Homo sapiens: one gene and its partners. The protein of the gene in region 7 purifies or fractionates together with the protein of the main gene of each other region. This does not show direct contact. Each region holds a gene or a part of one and is shown on either strand. Other genes may lie near its edges. The genes, in order: OAT, SEPTIN8, PPP6C, ABL2, ACBD3, MRPS31 and AXL.

Region 1 (2,560 bases), on a different chromosome or scaffold from region 7:
GAGACGGAGTCTCACTCTGCCGCCCAGGCTGGAGTGCAGCGGCGCAATCTCAGCTCACTGCAAGCTCCACCTCCCAGGTTCAAGCGATTCTCCTGCCTCAGCCTCCTGAGTAGCTGGGACTACAGGCACCCACCACCTCGCCTGGCTATTTTTTTGTATTTTTAGTAGAGATGGGGTTTCACTGTGTTAGCCAGGATGGTCTCGATCTCCTAACCTCGTGATCCACCCGTCTCGGCCTCCCAAAGTGCTGGGATTACAGGCATAAGACACCGCGCCCGGCCCCTCAGGTGATTCTTTAAGTGCAGCCAAGGTTGGGAGGTTGGAATCGTTGCTTTAAAAGGAAGAGTTATCACAAGAAAATCCAGCAAGGAACACCTAAGGGTTACAAAGGATGTACTAAAACATCAAACACCCAATTAAGTGACAGCCAGCATTATTTTTATTATTGACCCCATAACTGTCATTCATATCATTATTTCTGCTGCTCCTATAACCTCTACTGACACAAAGCATCAAAGTGAGGGAGGGAAGGATAGCAAAGAGGACACTTTCAAGTCCAGACTCACCAACAAAAAAACTTGAACTCTCTAAATACTGCATGACTAATTTAAGGCAGAAAAATAAGTGTCTTAAAGGAACAAGGGTCAAATTGGTTAAATGTGCCTTCATTTAGAAAAGAGCTATATTTTTTATACTCTTAATATAATTATAAATCAGACAATAATCTGTCTAAAAGGTTTGGTCATTATGTCAGTCAGCAGTTTCAAACAGAACATCCCAACACCCAATTAAAATACCAAGTGTGGCCAGGAGCAGTGGCTCATGCCTGTCATCTCAGCACTTTCAGAGGCTGAGGCAGGCGGATCACGAGGTCAGGAGATCGAGACCACCCTGGCCAACATGGTGAAACCCCATCTCTACCAAAAATACAAAAATTAGCTGGGCGTGTTGGCACGTGCCTGTAATACCAGCTACTCGGGAGGCTGAGGCAGGAGAATCGCTTGAACCGGGGCATCGGAAGTTGCAGTCAGCCAAAATGGCGCCATTGCACTCCAGCCTGGCAACAGAGCAAGACTCCATCTTAAAAAAAAAAAAAAAAAAAAAGTGTGGCCGGGCGCGGTGGGCTCACGCCTATAATCCCAACACTTTGGGAGGCCAACGCAGGTGGATCACGAGGTCAGGAGTTTGAGATCAGCCTGGCCAACATTATGAAACCCCATCTCTATTAAAAATATAAAGATTAGCTGGGCGTGGTGACAGGCGCCTGTAATCCCAGCTACTCAGGAGGCTGAGGCAGAGAATTGCTTGAACCCAGGAGGCAGAGTGCAGTGAGCCAAGATTGCGCCACGGCACTGCAGCCTAGGAGACAGAGCAAGACTCCGTCTCGAAAAATAAATAAATTAATTAAATTAAATACCAAGTGTATTTTAGGTCTTCCTTAAAAAATTATCTTGAGTAAATGTTTTATCTCCATACCTTTGGTTTCTTTAATGACAATAGCGTTTAATAATCCTTTTCCTCTTACGGCAGTTACAACATCAGAAGGTAGCTTCATGAGTTCATTTCTCAAGATAATGCCCAATTTGTCTGCATTTTCAGCAAGGTTTTCTTCTTCTAAAACCTACGTTTAAAGAAAAATTATACAAATATTAAGACTGTCCTTTTTTTGTTTTTTGGAGGACAACGGGGACTGTAAACACAGGAAAAACATGACTAGATAAAATACCAGAGGAACTTAACTTTCATTGCTATTTTTCAAAGCCTGTATTAGTTTCTAATTAAACATACACTAGCTCAGAGTCTTGCTTTCATCACAAATCTATTGCCAATCATTCATGGCAAAATAAGGATTAAAGTTTATTTAATGCAACTCACATACTGTCATTAATTGAATACATCAATGGACGAAATGTAATTCCTAAACTGCAATAGTTTCTTCCCCCCTCACAAAGATCTGTCCTCAGAGATTACATAATAATTGTATACCTTCAGCAGGCACTTAAAAAATCAGTCTGAAAACATTATAAATCCACACTTGAAAGAAGACTTGCTTGCTAAGCAAAAAGACGGGTCTGGTAGGTGGGTCACAGTTGAGAGTTCTATGAGGGCCAGCCAGGGCCGAAGAACTCAAAGCGCCAGGTGACTGTGAACTCAGGAAGCCCACGGAGGAAATCCAGTCTACTAGGCCAAGTTTAAATTACTTTTTGAGAATATCTTGTTCCTAAAATTTTTCCTCTATACTTCATGTTTTCTAATATTTGGCATTCTTATTGAATTTTTTATTATACCAGTGGGCCCAAATTAAAAATCACTTCAACATTGCTTTAAAGAATAGACACTGTGTGGCTGTATCAGTCTTTACCTCAAGGGCTGCGATGGCCACTCGGCAGCCTAGTGGATTGCCACCGTATGTGGACCCATGCTCCCCTGGCTTAATGGTCAGCATGATGTCATCATCACACAGCACTGCAGACACCTGAAAGACAGTCAATTCACCATGTCATTTCTCAGCACTAAGCATTCTACTAAGCATCCTTTTCCCCAGAGTCTCGCTGTCACC
Region 2 (4,219 bases), on a different chromosome or scaffold from region 7:
AGCTAAGGTTAAAAAGCTAGCAGGATTCCACCAGGAAGGTTTGCCATAGATCCAGCTACCCTAACCACTGCTCTGCTCTATTTCTTGTAGATAACTTTAATACAGCATGGGAAACAGCAACATAGAGAGAGGAGCAAAGTGAAAACATTGTCAGGAAGGTCCAGCGGGAAGTCAGTCCACCTTGGGGACAAGCTACAGTTTGCCTGGGAGAGTGAGGAGGGGAAAGCCAAATCAGGGTGACAAGGTCAAACAGCAGAGAGGGGGCTCCTCTTAAGCCAGGTGTGCTAAGTCGAACGTGGTCTTTAGGCACCTCCAGTCAGCACAAGTTTCTGAGTAGGAGAAACAGGTCAGGTTGCTTCTCAGCATACTGGGGTGAGGGGTGTGTGTGGAGGGTGGACCAACCTGGGATGAGGCCAGTGGGGGGTAGGGGGCAAACCTTGCCACATTCCCAGAAAGAGCAGAGAGAAAGGCAGAGGGAAGAGAAAGAAACGGGGTTTCAGAGGATTTGGGAGCTGCTTTTGTATAGATTGTCAGTGAGAAGGATACAGAACCTCCTGAGGCCTCCGACCCTGGCGTAAGTGTTAATTTTCTGAACGTTTTGAGCAGTGACATTAGCGGAGAGAACGTGCACGCACTGGGAGTGGTCATCCTCTTTGCACAATGGTGGAACCATTAAGACGTTGTCCCAAGCCCTTGGGACAGGCAGGGTGATGGACACTTGCAATCTGACGCCTTGACCGTCGAGCTCCGCTTTTCTATTGCAGGAATCCCAGCCTAAACTGCGCATCCTGCTCGTTGGTTGCACAAGGAGCCGAAGGCTGGTCCCTTGCCCGGGAAGGCCGCCTGGCCGGACGCGCGGGTCCCGCCGGGGTTCCCGCCTTAGCTCCGGCCGGAGCATCAGGTGGGGCCCAAGACACCCGCAGACTAGGCTGCCGCGGCCTCTCCCGGATCCGACGGGTCTCCCGCAGCTTGTCCACACTCTGGTTGGTGGTCCCAGCACATTTGCAGGCTCCAGCGGGTGGAGACGGCTTGGTGGGGGAGATCTCTAGGGCGCACGCCGTGCCCCACTTCCCCCTTACGGGAAAGGCTTTCCAGCGCGCGGACCCAGGAGACTCTCACCTAGGCTCGGCCCCAGGCTCCAGGGGACACGCAGAGGCCCGCCGGGCACCAGCCCCGAGCCCCCCGACACTGCCGTCCCGGTCCCCCAACGCGCGGACTACAAGTCCCAGCAGTCCCCGCAGCTGGCACCTCCCGCCTCGCCGCGGAGACCCCCGGCCGTCCAAGCGGCGGGGCTCCGGCTGCGCTCGTGGCCGGGCCGGGCGGGGAGGCCGGTCCCGCGGGCGGGGGCAGGGGCGGCTCCGCGGCTTCTCCCGCCGCCGCCGCCAAGGGGAGTTTCCAGGAAGTGGCCATATTGGATCCATTCAGCCGCAGCCGCCCGGGCGGAGCGCGTCCCGCAGCCGGCTGGTCCCTGTCGCTGCCCCTGCGCTCGTCCCAGCCCACCCGCCCGGTGCGGAGCTCGCCATGGCGGCCACCGACCTGGAGCGCTTCTCGGTGAGGGCCCCGCTGGGCCACGGCGCGCGCGGGAGGCGCGGGGCGCAGGAGGGGCCGCCCTGCAGCTGGCGGGGGGCGCGAAGCGGGCTGTCAGCGCCTCACGGCCGGGCCTCGACACCGGGCCAGCTCGAGGACCCCGGCGCGGGCTCTCGGCCGCGCTATCGGGGGGTCCCGGAGCGTCGGGCGGCCTGCCTTGCCGGGCGGCTGGTCGGGGTCGCTTCCTGGGGCGCAGGCAAGGCTAACCCCTTTCGCGGGAAGGAGCAAAGACCCGCCTGGCTCCGGGCAGGTGCGAAGATAGAGTGGCGCCCGCGGGGCCGCAGGTGAGGGTCCGGGACACTCCGGACCCTATCGCCCAGGGTGTTTCTTTCTGCACACTTGGGGAAGAGTCCTAGCCGCACAGGTGCTGCGGGATAGGTACAGCCGGGGAGGATGGAGGCCCCAGGATCCGAGAGAGTCTCCCACACGAGCCCAGGACAGTTGCAGACTTGAGTCCTGAAGACCCTTGGCCTGCTTTTCCTTCCTCCCCCGCTCCCCTCTGCCCCGCTCCCCACGCCGGAATCCTGGGTGCGACTCCAGGCAGGTCAGGCCTCAGTGGTCGGGTCTGCGGCAGCCATTCGCCAGGAGCTGGAGGGATTCCAGACTCAGCCCAGTGGGCGTTTATTTGGGCTCCAGTCCAGGTCCTCAGAAGGTTGATGTCCCTGGTGGTCCCTGCAGGGGTCTCACTGGGCCTGAGCCTGCCGACAGCCAACTTACTAAAGGCTTTCATAATTCACTCGCGGGAGGGAGGCCTTTGGGGGGTTGTATCTGGACATCCCCTGCTGTCTAAGGCTGGATCTGGGTGTGTCTGGGAGGCTAGGCTGTGACAGTGAAGGAAGCTGTGTCCTCTTGCCAGCATGTAAGGCCCTGGTCGGCTGGAAGGGGGAGGAGGGGGAGAAGGAGGAGGAGGAGGAGGGAGGCCCAGGGCTGTTGGAGGGAAGGGGGAATTCTGAATATGTGAACGATAACGAATTGGTTCTGGGGCTAAATAAGGGAGCCAGGACTTATGTAATTAATGCTATAAATACCGTCATCCCAATTTATATATGTAAATTTTCCATTTAATCTGAAAATACATTTCTTATTCTACTTTGGAAATGTGCATGACTAAAGCAGGAGCTCTTGGTTTCATAATTTCTAGACTCGGGTGTTTTATTCCCATTGGAGAGGGGGTCGTATGTCAGTTAAGTAAGTTTAAATACATGAGGAACAGATTCAGAGGCTGGGCTACTCAGAGATTCACTTCGCCCCGTATTATAAATTGGAATTTATGTACCGGAGGAGGGCAGTGCCTGAATCCTAACAGACCTGCTGATTAGCTGGAGGCCAAGAGACCCGTGAGTGCCTGGGTGTCTCTGCATGTGTGTCTGTGTGCATTTTCTGTGCCCAGCTGACCAGAAAGTTATGTCTGGGTCTTGTCTGTGGCCAGAGGTTTAACAGTTGATGTTGCAGGTGGGAGAGGTATGTAGAGAAACCAGAATCAGACAGCCTGATAGGAATCCTAGACACTCCTTGTTGGCCATGTGACCTTGGGCAGGTTATTTAACCCCTTGGTGCTCTCATGCGTATAATGGGATAGAAATATTTCTTCCCTCATAGGGGTATTGTGAGGATTCAACAAGAGAATCCAGGGGAGGTACTTAGCCCTGTGTCTGGCACATGGTAAGGACACAATAAATAATATATGCTACCTATTGTCCACGTGGATGTGAGGACTGGCCCCCTATGTAAGAAGGGAGCAGAGGATGCATTTGCCCTGTTCATGGCACTCTCTGTAGAGCTTCCATCCCTGCTCGTCCAGAGATGGTCCTCAGAGGGTTAGCTGAGAGGCCATGCTGTGGGCTGGTCAAGCCTTCCCCTGGGGTCCTGTGTTTGCTCTCGGACCATTCCTGTGAGGAGTTTTGGTATTAGCTGCGGGGTGGCCAGGGCACAGAGAGGGGACTGACTCAGGCAAGGGCGTAGAGCCTGAGCGCAGGGCCTTGGTTGCTATGCCAGCTTCAGCTGGAGGGATGGACACCTTCCACACCCTCTGCACTTTGGGCTGTCAGCCTCCTGGAAGGGCTTGGATAGGGTTGGATTTGGGTGGAGACCTTGGGTGGAGTTTGGCCTGAATTTAAGTCTGGACTCCATTCACCCTTCCTGGCTTGTCATCTTGGGAAAATCATTTCTGCCTTTATCTTGCTGTAAAATGGGCAGAGCCACACTGGTTCCTCAGAGAGTTTATGGAGGGTTAATTGCAGTCCGTGGCATGTTTGGAAATATGCTGAGGTGTCTCGCAAGCCCCAGGATGTGATGGAGCCATGACAGGTCTACACTGTCCCTCTGGCCAGCTCAGTGGTCAGTCTAGCCCTGCAGGCCTGAGAATTGTCCTGACCTGGAGCTTAGACGGCATACAGAGTTGTACTTTGAGATGGATGTGTGCTGGGTTCCTGTGTCCTCACATAGCATGGTGTACACACCACAGGCCAACAGCCTTGGCATCCTGACTGGGCTCTGCTCCACCCTAGATCAGTATTGGGGTAAGGGTTGGCATCCCCTGTGTGTGGGTGTGTGGAGCAGCCCTCTGAGGAGGGTGTGTTGCCTCTTGCCTTCCTCGGGCAGCCAGATTCCTGTCCACTCTTGCTGTGCCCCT
Region 3 (3,500 bases), on a different chromosome or scaffold from region 7:
GTCAGGTTTTTTTTTTTCTAAAATTATGGAAGAAGCCAAAGTACAGAGCTTCCATGGTGTTAACAAAAGAAGTGTGTACCCTATTAACTATGTAGACAGTCAGGGTACAGTGGCTCACATCTGTATTCTCAGCACTGTGGGAGGCTGAGGTAGGAGGATTGCTTGAGCTCAGGAGTTCAAGACCAGCCTGGACAACATAGGGAGATCCCCATCTCTACCAGAAATAAAATTAGCCAGGTGTGGTGGCACTTGCCTGTAGTTCCAGCTGTTCAGAAGGCTGAGGTGGTGGGATCGCTTGAACCCAAGTGGTTGAGGTTGCAGTGAGCTGTGATCGCGCCACTGCTGATTGTGCCACTGTATTCCAACTTGGGCAATAGAGTGAGACCTTGTCTCAAAAACAAAAAACTACGTAGGCAGCAGAAAGAGTGTTCAACTGAGAATTTGTAAGAACCTGATTGGCAATCTGTCCTCAGTTTTGATCCACTGAAGCTCAAGTGTTTAGTCGCACGATTTGCAGAAAATCTCAGAAGAGACAACTTAGCCCTGAGAAGAGTTAGGAATTGCTCATGCTCCTATAACTAAGGATCCTCTAATTTGTTTGATCTGTTTATCCTGCTAGAATTGTCTCCTTAAATAAATTTATCTGCTTACCAGAATTGCCTAATATTAACATAACTGTTAAAACATTTGCTTCAGGTTGTGTGAAATTAGTATTTAACTCTTCTAATGATAGCATTTTGGCTAATAATTTCAGCTGCTTCTTAGGTCCATTCCAGGAATGAAGAGCAGTACTACATCCTTAGGAAATACAGTCATGTGCCACATAATGACATTTCAGTCGATGATGGACTGTATATATGACAGTGGTCCCATAGATAAAACGGAGCTGAAAAATTCCTATTGCACAAATACTTACCATTGTGTTACTATTTCCTTATGATATTTAGTACAGTTACATGCTGCACAAATTTATAGCCTATGAGCAATAGGCTATATCATATTGCCTAGGTGTGTAGTAGGCTAGACCATCTAGGTTTATGTAAGGACATCCGATGATGTTCACACAACGATGAAATCACCTAACAATGCATTTTTTAGAATGTATCCCCATGGTTAAGGGACATACAACTGTATGTAGTTAGTCACTAGCGTTCTTTTGGCTCTATGTGGAGGTCCTAGCAGGACTAAATATGTGTCATATCTTGCTATCCTAGTTTAAGCTGAATTTCTGTTGTACTGAAGGCTGCTCTAGTATTGGATATATTGTTTATTTTTATTAGCAGATTCATTAATTAAAACCCTTCTGTTTCTTTCACAGATGAGTGCCAAACCAAATATGGAAATGCTAATGCCTGGAGATACTGTACCAAAGTTTTTGACATGCTCACAGTAGCAGCTGTAAGTTTCTATTTTTAAAGTCTCATGTACGTTCCTGCCAATAACACATTGCATATTTTTATCTAGTTGTCATCTCAATTATATTGATATCTTTAGTATTCACTGATGAGTTTAGATATGCCTGAGGTTATATGTTCAACTCTTTGTTATCCTTTTTTGCTAGTTAATAGATGAGCAGATTTTGTGTGTCCATGGTGGTTTATCTCCTGATATCAAAACACTGGATCAAATTCGAACCATCGAACGGAATCAGGAAATTCCTCATAAAGGAGCATTTTGTGATCTGGTTTGGTCAGATCCTGAAGATGTGGATACCTGGGCTATCAGTCCCCGAGGAGCAGGTTGGCTTTTTGGAGCAAAGGTCACAAATGAGGTAAAGCCAACATTTTTGGAAATGTAATTTGTGGATTGCTAATGGGCTGCATAGAGAACTATGGTGGCCCTAGATAACAAACTTGTAGTCTAGCTTACTCAAAATATGGTGGCTGTGGATATTAAATTTCTAGTTTAGTTATTAACGTATGTCTTTCTTTAATGGTTAAATAAGATGACACAGTGAAAGCACCTACTCCAGCATCCATTTGGTAATAATGTATAAAGTAAATGTTCTTTCCTTTTTTTTTTGTTTTTGAGATGGAGTCTTGCTCTGTCGCCTAGGCTGGAGTGCAGTGGCGTGATCTTGGCTCACTGCAACAACCTCTGCCTCCCAGGTTCAAGCCATTCTCCTGCCTCAGCCTCCTGAGTAGCTGGGACCACAGGTGTGCGCCACCATGCCTGGCTAATTTTTGTATTCTTAGTAGAGATGGGATTTCACCGTGTTGGCTAGGCTGGTCTTGAACTCCTGACCTCAGGTGATCCACCCGCCTCAGCCTCCCAAAGTGCTGGGATTATAGGTGTGAGCCACCGCACCCGGCCAGCCCCTTTCCTTTCAAGTACTGTAGTTAAGTAACAAAATGGCAAGACCAAGATAGGCAATACTTTTTTTTTTTTTTCTCAAAGACCTCAAATCACACAGATACAGACACTTTATTAGTTTCCTCTACAAGAGACAATAACATGAATCTTTTTTTTTTTGAGACAAGAGTTTCGCTCATGTTGCCCAGGCTGGAGTACAATGGTGCAATCTCGGCTCACTGCAACCTCTGCCTCCTGGATTCAAGCGATTCTCCTGTCTCAGCCTCCCGAGTAGCTGGGATTACAGGTGTACACCACCACGCCTGGCTAATTTTGTATTTTTAGTAGAGACGGGGTTTCACCATGTTGGTGAGGCTGGTCTTGAACTCCTGACCTCAGGTCATCTGCCCACCTTGGTCTCCCAAGGTGCTGGGATTACAGGCGTGAGCCACCGCGCCCAGCCTACGTCAAATCTTTTTTTTCTTTTTAACAGAAATCTCTGTTCATTTGAAAAGCCAAATAGATCCAAAGAAAGAAGATGAAAATTAAATACTTAAATTAATCAAAAGGCACTATGATACCACCTAAAACCTACTGCCACAGTGGTAGTAGGCTAAGGAAGATCAAGCTACAGCAAATCATGTAATGTGAATGTTAGCGATTACATAGCAGGAAGCACATTTGCTTTCCAGAAGACTACGGTACAGTGTTCATTTGGGCCCAAGAGGATCTTTGGCCAGGAAAGGATCAAGATGGATGAAGGTAAAGCCAAATCAAAGGAGTAGGTACAAAAGAGAATCCAAGCTACATAGTCAAGCAGATGATGATGGATCAGGCTTCTTCCTCCCAAGAAACATTTGCTGCGCTGTGCTGCCTCCCCCCTCAACCACCCCCCACCCCCTACCCCATGGCTGCTCAAGCCCAACTGCCTACTCCTGCCTTACAGGGTGCTCAGCCACCGGGACTAGGTTTGGGGTTGCCCAGGGCTCTTGCCATAATTTAGCATAGACCTTGGGGAGAACTGCTCACACATGGGTTGGCTTTGCTGCTGGTTGTTCTCAACAAAGAAAACCCTGAAGCATTCACATGCAGAGTAGTCTGAGCTTCTCCAGTCACAGTCAAACACCCCCACACAACATCCTCAAAAGTCTGAAATCTTGTAACAGCTGAGCTATAGTTAAAGCTGCAAGGCTCACAGAATCATCAAG
Region 4 (3,500 bases), on a different chromosome or scaffold from region 7:
CCTCAGAAATGTGTGCATTTTCCCACCAGGCTAACAGTGGCTACCTCTGCACCACATCACTGATTTCCTGTACACATGACAATAAGTTATTAAGGACAGGGTTTGTCCCGGGCACACCAGCAGCTGCTGAAGAAACCTGTAGCTCCTGCAGGCTGAGTTCCAGTTTGCTCACAGCCTCTCGGAAGGCAAATTTGTTGCGAGTTTGAGGGATGCAGTCCACATAGCCTGAGCAGTAGTCAAGCAGCTGGTGTCCAGTGTCTACCAGCTGGCTGTTGGGCACAGGTTCCGTGAGTGCACTGGACAGTAGGTCAGCACATTCCAGCAGGGCCTCTTTGCTGATTTTGTCTGCTGAGATTTTCTCAGCGGCCTGTTTGGTTTTTCTCAGAGCCACTTTAGTACCTGCTGTGCCATTGGCCATTTTGGCTGGCGAGATGGAAGATGTGGGCAGAGGCACTTGAGGTGGAGGCATCACTGGCCTCCCAGCTTTCCCACTGATGGGCACTGCGCCCAGAGCTGCCTTCTTTCCTCCTTCCTGTGTTTCTGATGTGGACTGTCCTGCAGTTAGGGCAGTTGGCTCTTCTGTAGGGTCTGAGCAGATGGACGGATGCTGCAGTAGTCTCATCACTGGTGGTGGGGGTGGGGCACACTTTGGTTTTACCCGTCGGGGTCGGTCCTTGTCTCCAGAGGATGTGACCTGATGCTCAGATAAGAGCTTGAATTTATTCCCCTGAGAGTCTGTGCCAATGAGCTGCACGTCAGCTGGAGTGTGTTTCAGAGTGGGTGAGATAAGGACTGGCACTTTGTGGTTGTGAGTGGTTGGGAGGACGGGGGCAGCCTTGGCTGGAGAAGGCCAGCCCGGCTGCTCTCCATCCTCTGGAACTCCAGCCATCCCAAGTCGTGCCCCACCATTCTTCTCTTTACCCTTGGGGGCAGCTGCCACTCCAGCCACTCCCACCCCTGGAGGGTCCTTCTCTGTAATGGCTAGATCCCCAGAGGGTGTTCTGAGAGGAAGAGCTGTGGCTCCTCTGGGCAATAACTTGGCTTTTGGTCTCTCCCTGCTTGGAGCAGCACTTTCCTCTGATTTTTTTGGAAGCATGTCATTGGCCCTGTCCACATTCTCTTCTGGCTGAGAAGAGGTGGACACTGTCCTTTCCAGCTGGAGTTTGGACCTCTGGCAGTTCCTGGGAAGGGTCATTGCCATCCTATCCTGCTCTGGAAGCCCTGAGGACATGGAAGATGTAGAGTTTGACCTTGGAAAAGGCTTGGAAGTGTCATCACTGGCTGTGGGTTTACCTGCTCGTAAGCCCAGTGTCTTTTTGATTAAGCGTGGTGTAAAGAAGCCTGTGATGCCAGACCACCCACCCCCAGCAGTGCCACTGCCCCCACCCCCACCACCGTCGTCATTACAGAGGTTCCTCTGTGCAAAGCTCCCCCCATAGCACTTGGGTGGCACCAGATTCGCCTCTTGCTGGGCAGGAGTGAAAGAGAACCCATCAGCATGCTGTAGAGAAGCAACAGATGAGAAGTTACCCGTGAGTTCGTATTTCTTATGGGGCTGATTCTCCATTTCTCGGAAGGAGCTGCTGCGTTTGGGGGGTGTAGGAGCATTTCTCTTCTTCATGAAGGAGCTGAAGAAGCCCCCCTTCCTATCCCTGGTGAAGCATGTCTCTTTGGCATCTTCCAAGAGGCTGCTGGGTGACTTGTCTCTTTGCTTTCGAGGCAGTGCTGGGGATCCACTAGAGGCCTGTGCACCTCTGATGAACCCTGATGAGAAATGGCCGATCAGTAACTTAAAAGACAAGAAGTGAATCTATTACATTTGAGTTACCGAGGCTGCATTATGAGTTTTGTCAGCATTTATCAAAGGTCAGGTGTTGGCAGGACTCAGAAGCAAATAATAAATACATTATCATTTCACAGTGACTGGTGTTCCAAATGTGATGTAAGTTAAAAATGGGGGAAGATAGGGGGCCGGGCACGGTGGCTCACGCCTGTAATCCCAGCACTTTGGGGGGCTGAGGCAGGAGGATCAGGAGGTCAGGAGATCAAGACCATCCTGGCTAACACGATGAAACCCCATCTCTACTAAAACTACAAAAAATTAGCTGGGCATGGTGGCGGGCGCCTGTAGTTCCAGCTACTCGGAAAGCTGAGGCAGGAGAATGGCGTGAACCCAGAAGGCGGAGCTTGCAGTGAGCCGAGATCGCACCACTGTACTCCAGCCTGGGCGACACAGTGAGACTCCGTCTCAAAAAAAAAAAAAGAAAAAAAAAATGGGGGAGGAGATAACCTGCTGGTTATTACCTCAACACTCATCCTTTCTTTAAAAACCACTGCGCAACCTCTTCTCCTCTATCGGGTTCAGCGAAGTTTTTGATGGAACTGTAAAGATGATACATACTTGGGAACCCAGGGGTACGGAGATGAAACTGGAGCCAGAGTTGTATGTTGGATGGATAGCCAAGGGCTTCATGGGTGGGTAAAAGAGACGCCATGCTTTCCCCAGGGAGGACGGGCATGAAAGTGGACATAAAAGCCTCACACCCCATGCTTCTTTAAACAAGGCAGTTTCTATTTTGATTCTACCTGCTAAGGGACCCATACCTGGTGCTAAACTGGAAGCAGAATTTTCTGTGGCATCTTGTGCCCCTTCAATGTTCTCCTTGTTCTCCACCTGTTTCTTCAGTGTCCGAGTCTTGGAAGGAAGTATAGGTAGCCGGGGCAGGTATGGAACAACAGATGACGAGGAGGCGGCTCTCCCAAGCTCCTCAGCTACCTCTGTGAGGAAGACAAGGGGACCAATAAAAAGAACAATTTCATAGCAGAAAAAGGGAGTTCTTTTCAGAAAAGGCACACAACTGAGAAAGAACTGGCAAGTAGAGTACTAAAATACATACACGGAATCATAAAGTATGTACTCTTTTGTCTGGCTTCTTTCGCCCAGTATCATGTGTGTAGATTCGTCCACGCTGCTGCATGTGGCAGGGGTTCTCATTGCTGTGTAGCATGCCAACGTGTGAATATACCACAATCCACCTGTTCTCCTCTTGATGGATGTTTAGGTTGTTTCCAGTTTGGAGTTACTATGAATACGTTGCTAGCATCATCCTGCTCTGTGTCTTTTGGTTCACAATGTTATGCACGTCTGATTGGCACAATGTAGGAGAACTGGTGGATCACAGGGTATACGTGTATTCAGGTTTATTAGGCCCTGCCAACCTGTCCCCAAATAGCGATACTATTTTGCATGAAAGCTGTGGTTACTCTGCATGCTTGCTAAAATTTGATGTTATTATTTTTGGCTTTTTTTTTTTTTTTTTTTTGCAGATGGAGTCTCACCCTGTTGCCCAGGCTGGAGTGCAATGGCGTGATCTCAGCACACTGCAACCTCTGCCTCCGATGTTCAAACGATTCTCCTGTCTCAGCCTCCCAAATAGCTGGGATTACAGGAGCCCGCCACCACACCCAGCTATTCTTTGTATTTTCAGTAGAGATGGGGT
Region 5 (3,500 bases), on a different chromosome or scaffold from region 7:
ATTGCCTAGCATATACTAACTGCTTAGTAAAAGTTTTAAGACTTCCCCTCCATTAACTCAAAACATCCATAATCAATTCTCAGAAGTACCTCCTTTTCAACAACATAAGCAGCCACAAAAATACCAATAGCCAGGCATTCTGCTAAGAGTTTATATATATAATTTCTTATAATTCCTAAAACAACCCTTTGAGTACAGGAAAGCACAAAAAGTTAACAAAATTAAGTGGCAGAGCAAGGAAAACACACCCTAAAGAGTGTTGACTCCAGAGCTTACCTTTCTAAATACTGATTCACAGTAGCTCTTGTATTAGTTAACTGATAAAACATCTGCTCCTGGGCATTGGCTACACTGTCCACTTTCTGAAAACTCATCAAGCTACACACTTAGTATTTGTGTACTTTAGTGCACTGCATGTGTGATAAAGGGAAGCCTCGGGAAAATGTTAAAATCACTTACATTAAAAACATATACACACTGGGCACAGTGGCTCACGCCTGTAATTCTAGCACTTTGGGAGGCCAAGGCAGGTGGATTACCTGAGGTCAGGAGCTCGAGACCAGCCTGACTAACATGGTGAAACCCTGTCTGTACTAAAAATACAAAAATTAGCTGGGCGTAGTGGCATGTGCCTGTAATCCCAGCTACTCGGGAGGCTGAGGCAGGAGAATTGCTTGAACCCAGGAGGCAGAGGCTGCAGTGAGCTGAGATCGCGCCATTGCACTCCAGCCTCGGTGACAGAATGAGACTCCATCTCAAAAAAAAAAAAAAAAACAATGACAACAACAACACATACACATTCCTGAATCCAGTCAAAGGAAAGTTTTGGTTCAGCTCAAATTTAACATGAACTTGGTGGCTATAATTGTTTTTCTGTCTTACATCTGTCTCTCTTAGGTCTATATATCCTCCTACAGTATTACATACTTATGTCTAAAGGTAAAGATAATAAAAGGGAAAAAGAACTCTAATAGATGTTCCATAGTAACAAACTTGAAATTATCTGAGGATAGACCACTGAAGTCCAGGAGGCACACTAATTATATATGTTTCCAATGAATAAATTACAGCTGTACAGTATTTTAAAACATTAAGGAAGCCATTTATAAATGCTCTTGTAGTTGCCTATGTTTAAAGAAGACAAGAGGAAATGGAACCATTTCAGTTGTCCATTTGTTTGCTATCATTAATATAATTCTCTCCCAACATATAATACTCTACTATCAGTAACACAATTGGGTATAATCAATAGCAATGCTAGTAGAACTATTCCATAAAGAAAATGAGTCCAAGACTTACCTTCCAAATAACTGAGGGGCCTGAGGCAGGATCCTTAACTCAGAAATGGGATTAATACCCTTACAGAAGGCCTCTTGGAGGATTAAACAAAATAATGTACATACAGTTTTTGGCATAGTACCTGAGATTTAGTAAACATCTACTCAATAACTATTGACAATTATTACTCTGAAATCTTAAATTAATGTAAACAATCTACCAGCTTAATGTAATACAGTAATAAAGTATTAGAGAAGGAAAAGTCCACCCCAAAGAACTCTAAAAACCAAAATACAATTCCCCAGGTCAACTCCATCCAAGAAGTATAAAGGTCATAATAAAATGAACCCACTGGATTCCTGTGGGTCCTTAACCCATGGAGATAAGAAAACCTAGCTTAACATTGTTAAAATAGAACTGGGCAACTCTGGCCGGGCGTGGTAGCTCATGCCTGTAATCCCAGCACTTTGAGAGGCCAAGGCGGGTGAATCGCTTGAGCTCAGGAGCTAAAGACCAGCTGGGCAACAAAGCAAGACCTCTGTCTCTACAAAAAATACAAAAATTAGCCGGGCATGGTGGCTCGTGCCTGTGGTCCCAGTCACACAGGAGGATGAGGTGGGAGGATGGCTTGAGCCTGGGAGGCATAGGGGGCAGTGAGCCAAGATCGCACTACTGCCCTCTAGCCTGCATAACAAAACCAGACTGTCTAAAAAAAAAAAAAGAATTGAGCAACTTTGCTCCTCCCTTTAAAAACCTCCAGTGGTTCCTCATCTTCTAATTTACTGACAAAAAGGCCGAACTATTAATACTTACATGGCCAGGCGCGGTGGTTCACGCCTGTAATCCCAGCGCTTTGGAAGGCCGAGGCGGGGAGATCATTTGGGGTCAGTCCAAGACCAGACTGGCCAACATGGTGAAACCCCATCTCTATTAATAATACAAAAATTAGCTGGGTGTGGTGGCACAAGCCTGTAAGCTCAGCTACTCACGAGGCTGAGGCAGGAGAATCACATGAACCCAGGAGGCAGAGGTTGCAGGGAGTGGAGATCATGCCACTGCATTCCAGCCTGGGTGACATAGCAAGACTCCGTCTCAGAAAAAAAAAATGACAATGGCATGCAAGTCCTTCCAAGAATTGAACTCAGTTACCTTCCCAGCTCTCTCCATCAAACTGCTTTCTATTTTCCATTTTGCAAACAGACATGCTTTGACTTCTCATGGCTTTCATGGCTCTTGGCCTTCCCCCCTCTGGAATGGCATCTGCTCCCTCAGTCCTCCACACTGTACTGCAGTTGTCACTGGGTCCTTAACTCCTCTTTTGGACTCTAAGCAAAAGATAACGTACTATTCATTTATAGTTGTAACCTAATATAAAACTATCCATACTGAAAAGTCAATAATGTCTGAAATTTAGATGGTAAAATGCTAACTTACATTTACCCACATCTTCATCTATTTTACTTTTACTGTCATAAAAAATTAAGAATAGTTGACGTAATTGATTCAGTCACTGGCCTATTACCACCCTGACAAGGATGGAATAAGAAATAGGGCTTGTCATTTCCAACCCAAGCTATTTGCAATGGAAAAATATATCCATGCTTTCAAGATTCGTATTTATTCCACAGTGGAAGAGAAAATGTAATGTTCTTTCCTTTATTTATTTATTTTTTTGAGATGGAGTCTTGCTCTGTTGCCCAGGCTGGAGGGCAGGGACGAAATCTTGGCTCACTGCAAGCTCCGCCTTGAGGGTTCAAGTGATTCTCCTGCCTCAGCCTCCCAAGTAGCTGGGACTATAGGCGCCTGCCACCACGCCCAGCTAATTTTTTTATTTTTTTATTTTTAGTACAGATGAGGTTTCACCGTGTTAGCCAGGGTGGTCTCGATCTCCTGACCTTGTGATCCACCCGCCTCGGCCTCCCAAAGTGCTGGGATTACAGGCAAAAGCTACCACACCCGGCCGAAAATGTAATGTTATTTCTAATTCTCGTGAGATACTGGTATAAAACCATAGAATAGCGATTAAAAGTCCCAGCAAGACTGACAAAACACCATGTGTTCCACCAGAAAAATCCACACATTAAAACAAAGGTGCCGGGCACGGTGGCTCACGCCTATAATCCCAACACTTTGGGAGGCCAAGGTGGGCAGATCACCTGAGGTCGGCAGTTCGAGACCAGCATGGAGAAACCCCGTCTCTACTAGAAATACAAAAGTACCTG
Region 6 (2,282 bases), on a different chromosome or scaffold from region 7:
GTGACTACAGGTGCATGCTACCACGCCCGGCTAATTTTTTAATTTTTTGTAGAGACAGGGTCTCCCTATGTTGCCCACGCTGGTCTCAAACTCGTTGGTTTAAGTGATCTTCCTGCCTCGGCCTCTCAAAGTGCTGGGATTATATGCATGAGCCACTGTGCCCAGCCCTCAATCCTTTGAATTGTATGAAAGTTGAGTCACGCTGCTCAGCAGCATAATGGAAAAGAAATAATTCTAACTTTGGCATGAAGACCTAAAGTACTAGAATGGATTAGAATAAACCCTTTATTTCTACAAGATTAATTTCTCTATAGTGACCCAGACTTAGGTGAGGGTAGTTAATTTAGTGTAAAATATATGTATAAATGTAAACAAATAAACGTATGTACATATATATCTGTCTATAAATCATCTCAACTCTTATAACATAGTACTGTGATATCATCCAGTAATTGTATTGTATTTCAAAGAAGTATGGTCACCGAGTGAAAAGAAAAAGGTTAGGAGTTGTTGTCTTAAATGTATTACTAATTCCCAGATATTCTTTTGAACCTATGAATACTGATGATTTTTCTCCATGCAAGAATATTTTTCAGTTACCATCATATTTTTGAAAACAATGTAACATTTATACCAGCCAAATCAAATGTAATAATCAACATAACATATACAAACTCTAGTAAAATTATTTTATTTAGTTGTAATATCCATCTCTAATTGTTTGAAATAAAAATTTCCATGGTCTTAATTGAACTGTATGTTACTTTCTTTTAGAATATCCTTTTTTTCATTAAAATAATTTCTAAACCACTCTATGTGTTCAACCTTCTGTTTAACACTAAGATATGGGTTTTTGGAAAGGCCACAAGTCACCAGCTCCATGAAGTGGCGAATTGGTCCTTGTTTTGGAAAGCTCTCCAGGTGTTTCTCCAGAAATATATGTTCATGAAATTCTGAACCATCATCATCAAAACCTAGGAAATGAGACCAAATACATTACATTATAATTTTAAATACAAAACCTACATCATAAAAATAATATTAATGAGGTAATATAATATTACAGTTTAAGGCATGAACTTTGGAGTTAGACCTAGGTTGCATTTTTTTTTTTTTTTTGAGATGGAGTCTTGCTCTGTTGCTCAGGTTGAAGTGGAGTGGCACGATCTCAGCTCACTGCAACCTCTGCCTTCTGGGTTTCATGCGATTCTCCTGCCTCAGCCTCCCGAGTAGCTGGGACTACAGGCATGTACCACCACGCCCAGCTAATTTTTTTATTTTTAGTAGAGACAGGGTTTCGCCATGTTGGCCAGGCTGGTCTCGAACTCCTGACCTCAAGTTATCTGCCCGCCTCGGCCTCCCAAAGTGTTGGGATTACAGGAGTGAGCCACCACGCCTGGCCCGGAGTTAGATCTAACTTTGCCCACCAATTTAACAACAGTGACTTTGGACTAATTAATTAACTTCTCTGAGCAGCAGATTCCTCAAGCATAATAATGAGAACTAAAATAGCACCTTGCTGGCATTTTTGTAAAGATCAAACAGACACAAACTATATATAAAGTTCATTTACAATGCCTAGCATGCTGTAAATGTTAAAAATGTGGTGGCAAGACCAGGCGTGGTGGCTCACGCCTATAATCCCAGCACTTTGGGAGGCGAGGCAGGCGGCTCACTCAAGGTCAGGAGTTCAAGACAAGCCTGGCCAACATGGTGAAACCCTATCTCCACTAAAAATACCAAAAAAATTAGCCAGGCGTGATGGCATGTGCCTGTAATCCCAGCTACTTGGGAGGCTGAGGTATAAGAATTGTTTGAACCCAAGAGGCAAAGGTTGTAGGGAGCCAAGATCAAGCCACTACACTCCAGCCTGAACAACAGAGTGACACTCTGAATCAATCAATCAATCAATAGGATAGCAATTATTGCCAATGATTATTTTTTTCTTTTGAGATAGAGTTTCACTCTTGTCGCCCAGGCTGGAGTGCAATGGTGCAATCTCGGCTCTCTGCAACCTCCACCTCCCAGGTTCAAGTGATTCTCCTGCCTCGGCCTCCCCAGTAGCTGTGATTACAGGCGCCTGCCACCACGCCCAGCTGATTTTTGTATTTTTAGTAGAGATGGGGTTTCACCATGTTGGTCAGGCTGGCTTGAACTCCTGACCTCAGGTGATCCACCTGCCTCGGCCTCCCAAAGTGCTGGGATTACAGGTGTGAACTACTGCGTCCGGCCGCTAAGGAATATTTTCATAAATAACGGCAACCATCAAGAACACTATAAAA
Region 7 (3,500 bases):
GGGACCCCCCCCCCCCAACTGCTCCTGCACTCCCTGAGGGAGTTCCCTCCCTCCTTCTTAGGATGGAAGCAGGGCTAGACACCCGCTGAGGGCAGGTCAGAACTCAGGACCAGGAAAGTCAGTAAGGGGGTCTGGGAAGGCTTCCTGGAGGAGGTGAGTCCTGAACTGAGATCTGGAAGGAGCATTTGGATGCGGAGAGGGAAGAGACCAGAAGGTGGGCTCAGTGCACAGCATGAGGTGAGCAAAGGGGCTGAGGTGACCGATGGGGGTGGGGACACGTGAGCTGCATCTCTGTCCCACTCCATGCTGGGTGTCTTGCCTGGGGCTGCCCTTTGGAAGCGGCCACACTGGATAAGAAAATCAAACTCCCCACCAATGGACAAGCAGAAAATATGCCAGATGGGGTGCAGTGGCTCACGCCTGTAATCCCAGCACTTTGGGAGTCCGAGGCGGGTGGATCACTTGAGGCCAGGAGTTCGAGACCAGCCTTGGTGAAACCCCCTGTCTACTAAAAGTACAAAATTCAGCCTGGTGCGGTGGTGTGCGCCTGTAATCCCAACACGAGAATTGCTTGAACCCAGGAGGCGGAGGTTGCAATGAGCCGAGATCGCATCACTGCACTCCAGCCTGGGCGACAGAGCAAGACTCTGTCTCAAAAAAAAAAAAAAAAAGAAAGAAAGAAAGAAAGAAAGAAAAAAGAAAATAGTAACCTGTAGTCCCAGCCATTCCCAAGGCTTAGGTGAGAGGATTGCTTGAGCCTCGAGACCAGCCTGGGTAACAACAACGAGACACCATCTCAAAAAAAAAGAAAAAAAGAAAAGAAAGAACAAAAAATCCCCCAAAAGCCAGAATAGAGGGTAAGGGGAGGGTAGAAGGTGGAGGGAATGGAACCACAGAGTTAGAATATTAGTCTTGGCCAGGCGCAGTGGCTCACATCTATAATCCCAGCCCTTTGGGAGGCTGAGGCAGGAGGATCACTTGTACCCAGGAGTTCAAGACCAGCCTGGGCAACATAGTGAATCCTGTCTTTACAAAAAATAAATTAGCTGGGCATGGTGGTGTATACCTGTGGTTCCAGCTACTTGGGAGGCTGAGGTGGAAGGATTGCTAGAGCCCAGGAGGTTGAGGCTGAAGTCAGCCATGATGGTATCACTTCACTACTGCCTGGGCAACAGGGCAAGATCCCATCTAAAAAAAAATTGATGTATATTTTACATACACTAAAATATACACATGCAGCTCAGCTCGATGAATTTTTATGGGTATAGACCCATGTAACCACTAGATGAAGGTAAAGAATATTTCTTAGCCCCAGCAGGCTCCTTCATGCCTCTTCGTCTTCCCAATCACTACCGCCAAGTGGTACCCACTATCCTGACTTCTCAGTGCTAGTTTAGCCTGTTCTGAAAAGTCATACAAATGGGATCATGCAGTTTGTACTGCTTTGTGTCTGGCTTCTATGGCTCAGCATGATGTTTTTGAGATGGATCTGTGTAGGGGTAGTTTGCTCTTTTTCTTTGCTGTGTGGTATGGTATTCCATCATATGAATGTCCTGTGGATTTTCTTTTCTTTTTTTCTCTTTCTTTCTTTTTCTTTCTTTTCTTTCTTTTTCTCTCTGTCCTTTCTTCTTTCTTTTCTTTCTCTTTCTCTCTCTTTATCTCCTTCCTTCCTTCCTTCCCTCCCTCCCTCTCTCTTTCCCTTTCTTTCCCTTTTTTTCTTTCTTTTCTTTTTTGTTTTGACAGAGTCTTACTCTGTCCTTTAGGGTGGGGTGCAGTGGCATGATCATAGCTCACTGTAGCCTCCAACTCCTGGCTCAAGCTATCCTTCTGCCTCAGCCTCCTAAGTAGCTGGAACTACAGACATGTGCCACCATGTCCAGCTAATTTTTAAATTTTTTTGTAGAGACAGGGTCTTGCTTTGTTTTCCAGGCTGGTCTTGAACTCCTAGCCTCAAGTGATCCTCCCACCTTGGCCTCCCAAGGTGCTGAAATTACAGGCTTGAGCCACTGTGCCTGTTTTTTTTTTTGTTTGTTTTTGAGACGGAGTCTCACTCACTCTGTTGCCCAGGCTGGAGTGCAGTGGCGTGATCTCAGCTCACTGCAACCTCCGCCTACTGGGTTCAACTGATTCTCTTGCTTCAGCCTCCCAGGTAGCTGGGATTTCAGATGTGCACCAACACACCTGGCTAATTTTTGTACTTTTAGTAGAGACAGAGTTTCACCACATTGGCCAGGCTGGTCTCAAACTCCTGACCTCAAGTGATCCACCTGCCTTGGCCTCCCAGAGTGCTGGGATTACAGGCGCCAGCCACCATGCCCAGCCATGTTCTGTTTCTTAATCTGGGTGCTGGTTACATGGGTGTGTGTGTGTGTGTGTGTGAAAATTCAGTGAGCTGCTTACTTATGACTTGTGCACATTTCCATATGTACAGTATACTTCAAGAAAAAAAAATTTCATCAAGGAATCAAACCCAAGGAAGGACCTTAGAATCTAGCAAAGAGCCAAAATTGGGAAGTCCTGAGGAAGCCCTTTGTCCCATCCTCACTTGACAGAGTGAACAAGAAGTAAAGCAGTTCCCTTCTGGACTGGGATGAAGGTTTAGGAGACAGATCCCCACCCGCAGCCAGGACAGTGAGGGGAGGAGGTGCAGATGTGTCTGAGAGCCAGGGCAGGCTTCCTGGTGGAGGTGACTGATGCCCTGACCCTGTTCCTTTCCCCAATCCAAACAGGCTGAATGAGAACATGTCCGTGTGTGTGGCGGACTTCGGGCTCTCCAAGAAGATCTACAATGGGGACTACTACCGCCAGGGACGTATCGCCAAGATGCCAGTCAAGTGGATTGCCATTGAGAGTCTAGCTGACCGTGTCTACACCAGCAAGAGCGATGTGGTAGGTGCACTCCCGCCAAGAGTGGGGAACCATGGGAGGGCATGGCCTGACCATCACACACTATGCCTGGGTGGCTGTGGATGCAAGGGTCACAGGGACATGTGGGCTTCCCTTTGCAGGGGCTTGTCCACATGGGCTGGGCATGTCTTGGGGTATGGTGGGCATCTCTGAATAGTGGTGTGTACATGCCCAGGATAAATACAGGCCCACGTGTGCATGGTAGCAATGTAGACAGTTTAGGTTAGAAGAAGCTGCAGTGATTATGCGTGCATGTGCGCACACTCATAGAATGTGGACAGCCAGGGTGTGCAGAGTGGCACATGAGCTCATGTGTCCATGAAGTGTGTATATGTGTGTGATGGTGAGCATGTGTATGCATCCACAAAAGTTACTTATTCATGTGTATACCCGTGTCAAGTATTTTTTATATATATATATTTTTCTTTTTTTGAGATGGAGTCTCGCACTGTCACCCAGGCTGCAGTGCAATGGCATGATCTCAGCTCACTGCAGACTCTGCCTCCCGGGTTCAAGCAATTCTCCTGCCTCAGTCTCCCGAGTAGCTGGGATTACAGGCGCCCACCACCATGCCTAGCTAATTTTTGTATTTT

What was found.
Region 1: the proteins of AXL (region 7) and OAT purify together in Homo sapiens (affinity purification with mass spectrometry, with the first as the bait; one large-scale study listed by BioGRID). This does not show direct contact.
Region 2: the proteins of AXL (region 7) and SEPTIN8 purify together in Homo sapiens (affinity purification with mass spectrometry; one large-scale study listed by BioGRID and IntAct). This does not show direct contact.
Region 3: the proteins of AXL (region 7) and PPP6C purify together in Homo sapiens (affinity purification with mass spectrometry, with the first as the bait; one large-scale study listed by BioGRID). This does not show direct contact.
Region 4: the proteins of AXL (region 7) and ABL2 purify together in Homo sapiens (affinity purification with western blotting, with the first as the bait; one study listed by BioGRID). This does not show direct contact.
Region 5: the proteins of AXL (region 7) and ACBD3 purify together in Homo sapiens (affinity purification with mass spectrometry; one large-scale study listed by BioGRID and IntAct). This does not show direct contact.
Region 6: the proteins of AXL (region 7) and MRPS31 purify together in Homo sapiens (affinity purification with mass spectrometry; one large-scale study listed by BioGRID and IntAct). This does not show direct contact.

Annotation. Positions count from the first base shown.
Region 1 is NC_000010.11:124,399,364-124,401,923, forward strand, and holds part of OAT (ornithine aminotransferase, mitochondrial isoform 1 precursor), read right to left. Parts: intron 2,477-2,560; coding exon 2,363-2,476; intron 1,622-2,362; coding exon 1,477-1,621; intron 1-1,476. UniProt on the Homo sapiens protein: Catalyzes the reversible interconversion of L-ornithine and 2-oxoglutarate to L-glutamate semialdehyde and L-glutamate.
Region 2 is NC_000005.10:132,774,440-132,778,658, reverse strand, and holds the start of SEPTIN8 (septin-8), read left to right. Parts: upstream 1-1,419; 5' UTR 1,420-1,521; coding exon 1,522-1,551; intron 1,552-4,219. UniProt on the Homo sapiens protein: Filament-forming cytoskeletal GTPase. May play a role in platelet secretion. Seems to participate in the process of SNARE complex formation in synaptic vesicles.
Region 3 is NC_000009.12:125,151,804-125,155,303, reverse strand, and holds part of PPP6C (serine/threonine-protein phosphatase 6 catalytic subunit), read left to right. Parts: intron 1-1,318; coding exon 1,319-1,398; intron 1,399-1,561; coding exon 1,562-1,771; intron 1,772-3,500.
Region 4 is NC_000001.11:179,107,678-179,111,177, forward strand, and holds part of ABL2 (tyrosine-protein kinase ABL2), read right to left. Parts: intron 3,169-3,500; coding exon of another isoform or gene 3,128-3,168; exon of another isoform or gene 2,898-3,127; intron 2,779-2,897; coding exon 2,605-2,778; intron 1,765-2,604; coding exon 41-1,764; 3' UTR 1-40. UniProt on the Homo sapiens protein: Non-receptor tyrosine-protein kinase that plays an ABL1-overlapping role in key processes linked to cell growth and survival such as cytoskeleton remodeling in response to extracellular stimuli, cell motility and adhesion and receptor endocytosis.
Region 5 is NC_000001.11:226,180,242-226,183,741, forward strand, and holds part of ACBD3 (Golgi resident protein GCP60), read right to left. Parts: intron 1-3,500. UniProt on the Homo sapiens protein: Involved in the maintenance of Golgi structure by interacting with giantin, affecting protein transport between the endoplasmic reticulum and Golgi. Involved in hormone-induced steroid biosynthesis in testicular Leydig cells.
Region 6 is NC_000013.11:40,728,628-40,730,909, forward strand, and holds the end of MRPS31 (small ribosomal subunit protein mS31), read right to left. Parts: intron 975-2,282; coding exon 745-974; 3' UTR 501-744; downstream 1-500.
Region 7 is NC_000019.10:41,253,723-41,257,222, forward strand, and holds part of AXL (tyrosine-protein kinase receptor UFO isoform 1 precursor), read left to right. Parts: intron 1-2,729; coding exon 2,730-2,889; intron 2,890-3,500. UniProt on the Homo sapiens protein: Receptor tyrosine kinase that transduces signals from the extracellular matrix into the cytoplasm by binding growth factor GAS6 and which is thus regulating many physiological processes including cell survival, cell proliferation, migration and differentiation.